Homo sapiens: one gene and its partner. The protein of the gene in region 2 purifies or fractionates together with the protein of the main gene of each other region. This does not show direct contact. Each region holds a gene or a part of one and is shown on either strand. Other genes may lie near its edges.

Region 1 (4,835 bases), on a different chromosome or scaffold from region 2:
AAAGATACAGTCTGCCACAGTACCTTAATCTGTTTCCATTTCTGTCTCTGAAAATGAGGATGGTACTAGCACCGATCTTGTAGAGTGCATGGGTAAACAAAATGAATTGCTGACTGCTTAAAACAGTGTCTGGCAGCTGACATGTGCTACATATGTGTAGCTGTCACTGTTGATGTCTTTTTCCTGTTCCTAGCACCTGTTCCCTAGCCTGTTGTGAAAAACACAACAAACAAAAGCTCCATTCAGTCTAATGTTCCACTCTTAAGTACATCACCTTCAGAGCCAAAATTCTTGAAAAGTAATCTTAAGTCATGGTTTCTACTTCCTGTCCTCCTATTCATTCTTCAGACACTCTTATCTGACTTTTACACCACTAAAATTCGGACACTGAGTGATAGGGTCACCAACATACTTGTTACTAAATACAGTGTACACTTTTCAAGGCTTCTGACAATATTAGTAACTTTATGGCACTCAATGTAAAGAAAATGAGAAATTAAACCTATGGGGCATTCCTTTTATTAGGGCAATGGGAAAAAGCAGACCACCTGCCCTTTCATCAAATAAATGTGATCTCTAGCTGATTCGTGTCTTAGAAGACCTAATGGATATGGAGGAGAAGCAGTTATTTTTATCCTTGAAAGAGGTTATTATCTAATGGCAGGATTCACTCTTTAAATGGATAATCACATCAATAGCTCTGCAGTTGTAACTGTGGCTTCTTGGGATTCTCCAGAGACACTTGAGGTGTCCTGAGGATAGAGACTTCTTGTTCTTAGTAAAGGGACTACCCATAGTGTTCGGTGGAGCCAGTCCCTAGGATCATAGAACAAAGGGCAGGGGGTTCTCTTTTTTCCCCTTCTCTCTTGCTAATGTGATAGGTGTAAGTGGCCCTCAAGCATTGCCTAGCTTCACTAATGGTCAAGACTGACAAGTGTTCTGGAAACTCATGAGTTTTAGATGAAACAATGCTGTGGGCCAGCAGAGAAGCAAGGCTTGGCTCCAGCCTAATTGTGTAGAAAACAAATGAAAATGCTTTATTTCATGAGGTTTATCTCTTCTGGATTTGTATTATATTGAGAATCTGATAAAAGAAAATGACTTAATCTGGTACAAAGAAATTTCAATCTGTTCAGAATCTGAAAAGAGGAACAGAGTCGAGGTAAAGCGAAATGAACAAGGTCACACAGTATTTAAGATACAATGCTTTCCAAGATGATGGTGGTAAAACTGTGACAGTATTTAAAATACAATGCTTTCTAAGATGGCGGTGGTAAAACAAAGTTTTGCTTTTGAAAAGTGAAAAGATAAATGAGGCCTACATCCCAAGACTTGGTTTTATACTCTTGGTATTATACTAAATATAACATTTAAATATTTTTTCTTTTAAAATAGCAAACGGATGTTTCAGAAGACAGCAATGATGATATGGATGAAGATGAGGTTTTTGGTTTCATAAGCCTTTTAAATTTAACTGAAAGAAAGGTTGGTTTCACTGGATGGCATCTGAATGGTTATTTCTTAGGCCAAAACCACTTTTATTTAATGCATGGTGAAAATGTCTTTTATGTTAAACAGTGATATTAACTATAGGGATAAGTGCTCTTGTGAAATCTTATTGTAATCCTTTTTCAATATGAAGGTGGTGGTGTTGGGTCTGTACCCAGTTAAAGTTGTTTACTCCCTGTGGTTTAGGGAATCATCTGGCTTTGCAGTCCTGATGTTGGTACTGATGCAGGAGCTGTTTGTGCTGTCTCTCTGCAGCTGTTATCTTTGCTACTTGTGTAGTGGGGATATTCTCAGGCTTTGCTGCCTCAATGTTGAGGGCATTTACTGACATTTTATTTTGTTTCGATTCATCTCTTTTTATTGATTCTCTGATGAGTTGTAATAAAAAGTAAACCAGCTGCTTACCCACCTCAGAATAAGATGCAGGCTACACTTAGTCTTTAATTTTGAAATAAACTGTCCAGTTACTTCCATCTATCTTTATGAGATGGACTAGAGTTGCCATTCCAGTGTGTCTGAATGTTAATTATGACTCTCTTACCACTCATCATGGGATGGTAAATAACCAGTGTATTTACTTTTGAGAAATGCTTAAGCAGTCAACACTGAAGACATACAAGACGTTAAGGCTATGGCAGGAAACTGCCCTTAGCTGTAAGATGAAAAGTGATAGCTTTTACTCTCAGGTTTTGTCCTCTATGTGATGGCTTGTAATAGGAAACAAGCTTTCTCTTTGCTTTCTAGGGTACCCAGTGTGTTGAACAAATTCAAGAGTTGGTTCTACGCTTCTGTGAGAAGAACTGTGAAAAGAGCATGGTTGAACAGCTGGACAAGTTTTTAAATGACACCACCAAGCCTGTGGGCCTTCTCCTAAGTGAAAGATTCATTAATGTCCCTCCACAGATCGCTCTGCCCATGTACCAGCAGCTTCAGTAAGAGATTCTGGGAAAATATCTTTGAACAGTAATTTTTTTTTCAAATAGATTCCTAAATGTCATTTAAGTAGAATATGTAGATATAGAAAGAGTTCTGTCCTTGGTTTAAGTGGGTTTAGTGTGAGGGGAGTGGAAGAAACATCCTGTGAAGTACATACATTATTAACAACTGGCTTTTTGAAGAGTTTGTGACAATAATCATGAAATTTTAACTTAAGATTTAAGTGATATATAAGTAGATAATTTCATATAGACTTTGCATCCCCATTTGATTGAAGTTTTTCACCTTCACAGATAGCTTTCTGCAACATGAATAAAATAATGAACAATTACAACAATAACAAAACTGGTAAAGTTCCCAAATTCTATTGGTATGTTTCATAACAAATGAAACCATAGTCCTGATACTGTGGCTAGCTTTTCAGGGTTTTTGTTATTCTATTTTTTAATCCAGAAGTTTTAAGTTTACAAAAATATTTCAAATGTAGCTGTGAAATCTAGCAAACTGAGTGTACTAAGAATTGTATTGTCTGTGCTTTGCAACAGAGGACAAAATATAGGCAGATTCTCTTATTTATTTCTATCTAATTTAAATTTTTTTTTTTTTTTGGTAGAGACAGGGTCTTGCTACATTGCCCAGGCTGGTCTTGAACTCCTAGGCTAAAGTGATCTTCCTGCCTCGGCCTCCCAGTGTTGGGATTACAGGTGTCAGTCACAGCACTTGACCTAGACAGGTTCTTTATAGAATATTCTTTCTCAGAGGTCATAGCCCTTGCGTTGTGGTTTTCCTTTAAATAGCTGTAGGAATGCAACTCTACTCTGGAAACCTTTACGTTTGCTGTTTTTTCCTAGGGATTCGATGCTTCTTATCTCCTGCTCCCTGCTCTCTCAGCTGTAGCTCAGATTGTGCTTCTGGTGCCTTAAGTGGTTTTTGTTTTTTTTTGGTTTTCTTTTTTTCTGATCAGCTGGAGCTCACATTTATTTGGTTTTATAGGAGGGTGATTTGCTTTCTCCTAGTCCTGTTAAAGCTGAAGTGAGCCAAGCGCAGTGGTGCACGCCTGTAGTCGCAGCTACTCAGGAGGCTGAGGCAGGGGGAATGCTTGAGGCCAGGAGTTCCAGGCTGCAATATACTATGATTGTGCCTGTGAATAGCCACTGCACGCCAGCCTGGGCAAAATTACAAGACCCTATCTTTTTTTTTTTCTTTTTTTTTTTTTGAAAAGGCCAGGTGTGGTGGCTGACACTTGTAATTCCAACACTTTGGGAGGCCGAAGCTGGCAGATCACTTGAGGCTAGGAGTTTGAGACCAGCCTGGCCAACATGGCGAAACCCCAATTCTACTAAAAATACACCCACAAAAAATTAGCCGGGTATGGTGGTGCAGACCTGTAATCCCAGCTACTCAGGAGGCTTAGGCACGAAAATCGTGTGAACCTGGCAGGCAGAGGTTGCAGTGAGCCGAGATTGTGCCATTGTACTCTACAGCCTGGGCAACAGAGTGAGATTTTGTCTCCAAACGAAAAAAAGAAAAAAAAAAAAAAGGAAAGCTGAAGAGGACGGTTGTTCTGAGTTTCTTCTTTTGTTCAAGGGCATCCAGATGCACAAGGCTATGTTTAATTTTCAGAAAGAAGAAACATTAAGGCTTTGTTGCGATTCCATTGCTAGAATTTAGGTTGTGTGTTTATGCAGTTTCTGCAGTATGTCAGAAATTAGTTCCAGACTCTAGCAATTAGAGACTGTGGTAGTAGTCACAGGCTGTAGTGACATTGGTTGTGGCTGTATACCTTTGTGTGTTTCAGTTAAATGTTCATTGCTTTAAAAAATTCAAAAATTCAGATTCGTATATATTTTTAACTTATGCACAGGCAGAGCAGTGATACATTGAGTGAATTTGAGACTCATCTGATCTGTTAGTTGCTATATATCCACAAATCAGCATAATCTGAGAGATATATCATAGTATTATAAAAAGTAATACATAATCTAAAATGCAACTGATTATGTAAATAAAAATCATTCCTGTAGACTAAGTGTTCAGATTGAATGCCTGCGTCACAGCAGAACCCACTGAAGATGCCTCACCGGGTTTTCTGTGCTCTGGTTTGTTGATGGATTTCACTTGACCCAGCAGGTAAACAAATGTTGTGTGTGTGCCTTGCAGGAAAGAACTGGCGGGGGCACACAGAACCAATAAGCCATGTGGGAAGTGCTACTTTTACCTTCTGATTAGTAAGACATTTGTGGAAGCAGGAAAAAACAATTCCAAAAAGAAACCTAGCAACAAAAAGAAAGCTGCGTTAATGTTTGCAAATGCAGAGGAAGAATTTTTCTATGAGGTAAGACTATCCTGCTTATTTGTTTAGATGTAAATAAGGATTTTCTTGAAAATGA
Region 2 (5,427 bases):
TGAGCTCTTGGCATTAGCTGTATATTTTGCTACTTAAAAACTGAGCTGCCGGGCGTGTTGGCTCACGCCTGTAATCCCAGCACTTTGGGAGGCTGAGGTGGGCAGATCACAAGGTCAGGAGATCGAGATCGAGATCATCCTGGCTAACACGGTGAAACCCCGTCTCTACTAAAAATACAAAAAATTAGCCAGGCGTGGTGGCGGGCGCCTGTAGTCCCAGCTACTCGGGAGGCTGAGGCAGGAGAATGGCGTGAACCCGGGAGGCGGAGCTTGCAGTGAGCCGAGATCGCGCCACTGCACTCCAACCTGGGTGACAGAGCGAAACTCCGTCTCCAAAAAAAAAAAACAAAAAAACAAAAAAAACTGAGCTAACACTACACACATAGCAGAATGGCTAGATTATTATTTTTTAAGGCAGAGTCTCACTCTGTCACCCAGGCTGGAGCGCAGTGGTGCGATCTCAGCTCACTGCAACTTCTGCATCCTGGGTTCAGGTGATTCTCCTGCTTCGGCCTCCTGAGTAGCTGGAATTACAAGTGCGTGCCACCACACCTGGCTAACTTTTTGTGATTTTGTAGAGATGGGGTCTCACTATGTTGGCCAGGCTGGTCTCGAACTCCTAACCTCAGGTGATCCGCCCACCTCGACCTCCCAAAGTGCTACGATTACAGGTGTGAGCCACTGCCCCCAGCCAGAATGACTAAAATTTTTACAAGTCATCAATTCCAAGTGTTGGCAAAGATATATGGAGCAACTGAACTCTCATACTGAGACAGGAGTGTAAGTTGGTCAATCACTTTAGATAATTATCTGGCATCATCTGCAACTACTACTAAATAGTCACATAACCTGTGACTCTGCCATGCCACTCTTAGGTATCATATACCCAGTAGAAATATGTACATGTGTTCACTAAAAAAACATAGCAGCACTATTACTTTTTTTTTTTTTTTTGAGACGGAGTCTTGTTCTGTTGCCCAGGCTGGAGTGCAGTGGCACAATCTCGGCTCACTGCAAGTTCTACCTCCCCGGTTCACACCATTCTCCTGCCTCAACCTCCCAAGTAGCTGGGACTACAGGCACCCGCCACCACACCTGGCTAATTTTTTTGTATTTTTAGTAGACACGGGGTTTCACCGTGTTAACCAGGATGGTCTCGATCTCCCGACCTCGTGATCCGCCCGCCTCGGCCTCCCAGAGTGCTGGGATTACAGGCGTGAGCCACCATGCCCGGCCAGCAGCACTATTCCTAACAGACCAAAGTGAAAACTGCCCAAATGCACTGTCGATGGAATGGATGAATACGTTGTGATATACTTACACAAAACACACCATACAGCAACAAGAATGAACAATCTACAAATACACGCCAATCAATTTCTGAATTCCAGGTCACTCCCATCATAAAATACACAAGGACTAAGCTAAAATCTCCCTTGTTGTCAGAACTTGCTTCAAGTCCTAAGGGCATGGTTAGAGATCAGAGTATTTTAACTGAATAGGAAAATACTTTGAGGTCACTAGGCTTAAGTTTTTGTTGTTGTTGTTTTTTGTTTTTTGTTTTTTTTTGAGACACAGTTTCACTCTTATTGCCCAGGCTGAAATGCAATGGCACAATCTCAGCTCACCGCAGGGTGAGCTCCACCTCCAGGGTTCAAGCAATTCTCCCGCCTCAGCCTCCCAAGTAGCTGGGATTATAGGTATGCGCCACCACACCCGGCTAATTTCTGTATTTTTAGTAGAGACGGGGTTTCTCCATGTTGGTCAGGTTAGTCTCGAACTGCTGACCTCAGGTGATCCACCTGCCTCGACCTCCCAAGCAGGCTTAAGATTTTTAAAAATTAAAGTAAAAGTAAAAAAATAAAATAAACAGACTTCTAAAAGTGACCTCAATGAGCAGAACTAAGAAACAATGGGCAGCAGTAATGGAAGACAGATCCAGCTTAATGAAAGGACCGGCCGGGCGCAGTGGCTCACGCCTGTAATCCCAGCACTTTGGGAGGCCGAGGTGGGAGGATCACCTGAGGTCAGGAGTTCAAGACCAGCCTGGCCAACATGGTGAAACTCCATCTCTACTAAAAATACAAAAAAATTAGCCGGGTGTGGCGGGATGCGCCTGTAATCCCAGCTACTTGGGAGGCTGAGGCAGGAGAATCACTTGAAGAGAGTGTTGCAGTGAGCCAAGATCGTGCCATTGCACTCCAGCCTGGGCAACAAGAGCGAAAACTCCATCTCAAAAAAAAATAATAATAATAATAAAAAGGAAAGGACCAACGACCAGAATTAACAGTGCTGACAGGTAGGAAGGTAGGGTAGAGATGTGGTAAAGGGAATTTAAGATTCCAACGTAACTGAGCAGGAAGACCGCATATCTTAGCTAATCTTTACAGAGACAGAAATGGATGCTTAGAAAGAGAAAGCACCTTGCCCAGTCAGTGGCAGGGAGAGATGAGATACAAATCCTCGGCTGGGTATAGTGGCTCTCGCCTATAATCCCAACACTTTAAGAGACCAAGGTAAGAAGATCACTTGAGCCCAGGAGATCAAGGCCAGGCTGGGCAACACAGGGAGGCCGCGTCTCTACCAAAAATGTAAAAATTAGCCAGGTGTGGTGGCACGTGCCTGTGGCCCTAGCTACCTGGTAGGCTGAGGTGGGAGGATCACTTGAGCCTAAGAAGTTGAGGATGCAGACAGCTGTGATCTTGCCACTGCACTCCAGCCTGGGCGAAAGAGCAAAAATCTGGCCTCAAAAAAAAAAAAAAAAGAGAAAAATCCTTCTCCAACACTAGGAACTAGGTGTGGAACTTACTGAGTCACTTAGGTCAAGTCTCAACTTCCTCATCAGTCAAGTTAGGCCAGTAACTCCTACCTTCTAGTGTCTTTGTGACGAAGGAATGAGAACAGGAGTGAAAGCACTTTACATTATTTGTTATTACTATTATCCAGCAGCCTTTGCTAGAGGGTTGCCCCGATCTCCTGACGCTTGGCCTGAGAGATTCTATAGTGCCCAGAGATAACAGATGATACCCTGGGAATCCCTAGGTCACTCCGGGTTCCCTCCGGGGGTGTAATTAATGGTGCTTGGAGACCACTCCCTCCCTCGGCGTCCTCCACCTGCCTTACCCACACACATGCGCCCGATGATGCGGCAGCCGGCGATAGACGCGTGCACCACGGGGATGGTATCGGAGAGCTCGCCCTCGAACACACTGTAGGGACATGGACTCGGTGGTGGCGGGGCAGAGGGGCCGGCACCCTCCCACTGCCGGAGCTCTTGACTCCTGCGCACGCCTCCCCGCCACCGTAAGCCCCGGGGCTCCCGCCGCACCTGTAGAAGTTCTCTGAGCCTCCGATCGCTACCAGACAGTAGGTGTTGGTGAGCTTGGCAAAGCAGCCGATCTCACAGTTGTTCTCGAACGAAGCTCGGACCGCCATGAGGCCTAGGGGCGGCGGAGGCGGGAGTTCAAGGCCGGCGGATCCTTTCCCAAGTATCCCGGCCTCCGTCCCTCAGGCCCCGCCGCGACCCCGCCCCTCTCGGCCTCCCGGCCCCTCCGTCCTCGGGTCCCGCCCACTGGGCCCCCACCAGAACCTCCGGCCCTGAATCCTCTGGCCCCCACCCCTCCCGACCCAGGACCGGAGCTGACCCTCCCAGGTTCCCCTCACACCAGCTTACCAAGTAACCAGTAACAAGCTCCGCACGCGGCGACTGTACCTTGGACTCCCTAAAAAGGTTTCCGTTTCCACTTCCGTCCAGGGAGACTTCCGGGAGAGCCCGGCGCTCCCCGCCACGCATCCAGCCCCTCTACCTCCGGCCTCCGGCGGACTCTATGGTCGCGAGCGGTCTGGGCGCGACCCCGCCTGGCCCCACGCCTAGCCTGCTCGCGTTCATTCATTCATTATTCATTCAGGAGCTTTTTAGGAGCTGTCATCGACCTAGACCTCCGGCTGGTCGGTTGTGAGGCATGAGGGAGAGGAGGGGCCAGGAGTGTCTCGCGGAAGGGTTGATGATGGAGGTATTGATGGAAATGAAGCCGGAGGAAGGGCAGGTTTGGGGAAAGGGATGAGTCCAGCTGTGCCTTGAGGGACAGAAGTCCATGTCTGGAGCCCAGCAGGGGAGTGGAGTGCTGACGAATGAGATGAGGGGCTGAAGACGGGTGGACTAGAAGAGGCTACCCATGGAGAGAGTTCCAGGAGGCAGAAGTGCGGCCAGACCGAGGCTGGAGAAAGAGCGCAGCCAGAGACGGAAAGGCAGCCAGGCTGCAGGTGCTGGAGAGAGGGGAGGACTGAGGAAGCAGGGGCTCAGGAAAAGGCTGGAAAGGGGTCCAGGGTGGGCAAGGATGTGGGTGCTGGTTGGCTTCCACGATGTGCCTCTCGCACGGCCTCTATCACTCACTCAGCAGCCAACTTCTGTCCCCAGGATAGTGATGGGGGCCAAGGGCCCTGCTGCACACTTGGACAGGATGAACTTGGCCCACATTTTGTAGAATCTGCAAAAGCCCCGGGTTCTCTCAAAATGTCACAGTGGTAACTTGGAGCCCCTGGACTCCCCCAATTCCTCCTTCGGCATTCACCCTCCTCCAGGGGTTTCCCCATAATTGGCCTGAATGGTGCCCTTCCCATTCCCCCAACGTGTCCCTCCCATAACTCCTCAAAGTTCAGGATACACCAGGCGCTGTGATTCACAATAAAGTCTGCCTTTATTGATGTGTATCATGTTTACTATCCCGGGTAAGTGGTGAGTTCAGGAAAATGGCCCACAACCTGTCACAGCCTGTACTTCAAGAGACACTCAGCAAGATGATGACGACGACAATGATGATGATGATGATGATGACTCAGCAAGATGATGACGACGACAATGATGATGATGATAATGATGATGTGTGTGTGTGTGTGTTTCCGGGTATCCACATACTCTGCTCTTCCTCACTCATTCACCTCAGACCCACTCAGTCCTCTTTAGGGCATCTCTTTCACCTGATTCTCTCTACCAAAAATTTTTCTAACTCTCTCCTCCCTCTGTCCAAAACCTCCCCATCCTTCAGGGCCTGGCTCAAAGGCCACCTCCATCTCCTCTAAGAAAGTTTTCTGACTACTCCACCTTCTCCAGGACTCTCTGCCCTTTGTTTTCTAACACCCTCTGTAACTGGTTAACCTTTAACTTGATATGGCTCTGACCCCTTCTCCAGCAGCTTGTGCATTTCACCTCTGTCCCCAGGTCTGAGTGTGACCCACCTGTCAGCTCTACAGGCCCAGCACAGGGCTGGAAACACAGCCTAGATTCAAGAAGATACTAGTTAGGGTGTGTGTGTGTGTGTGTGTGTGTGTGTGTGTACACAAGAATCTTGAGCCCAGAGAGTGTGTCTGACCTGGGTTTCTAGACACCTCCCTTCCCCAGTCTGGGACCTGAGCAAGTCCAGAGTCTCG

Evidence for each region. The genes of interacting proteins can lie anywhere in the genome.
Region 1: the proteins of EIF6 (region 2) and BCCIP purify together in Homo sapiens (affinity purification with mass spectrometry; 5 studies listed by BioGRID and IntAct, with this or other methods). This does not show direct contact.

Annotation. Positions count from the first base shown.
Region 1 is NC_000010.11:125,829,167-125,834,001, forward strand, and holds part of BCCIP (BRCA2 and CDKN1A-interacting protein), read left to right. Parts: intron 1-1,395; coding exon 1,396-1,485; intron 1,486-2,253; coding exon 2,254-2,441; intron 2,442-4,605; coding exon 4,606-4,780; intron 4,781-4,835. UniProt on the Homo sapiens protein: During interphase, required for microtubule organizing and anchoring activities. During mitosis, required for the organization and stabilization of the spindle pole.
Region 2 is NC_000020.11:35,281,053-35,286,479, forward strand, and holds the start of EIF6 (eukaryotic translation initiation factor 6), read right to left. Parts: upstream 3,721-5,427; 5' UTR 3,674-3,720; intron 3,666-3,673; exon of another isoform or gene 3,441-3,665; 5' UTR 3,436-3,440; coding exon 3,329-3,435; coding exon of another isoform or gene 3,210-3,328; coding exon 3,124-3,209; intron 1-3,123. UniProt on the Homo sapiens protein: Binds to the 60S ribosomal subunit and prevents its association with the 40S ribosomal subunit to form the 80S initiation complex in the cytoplasm. Behaves as a stimulatory translation initiation factor downstream insulin/growth factors.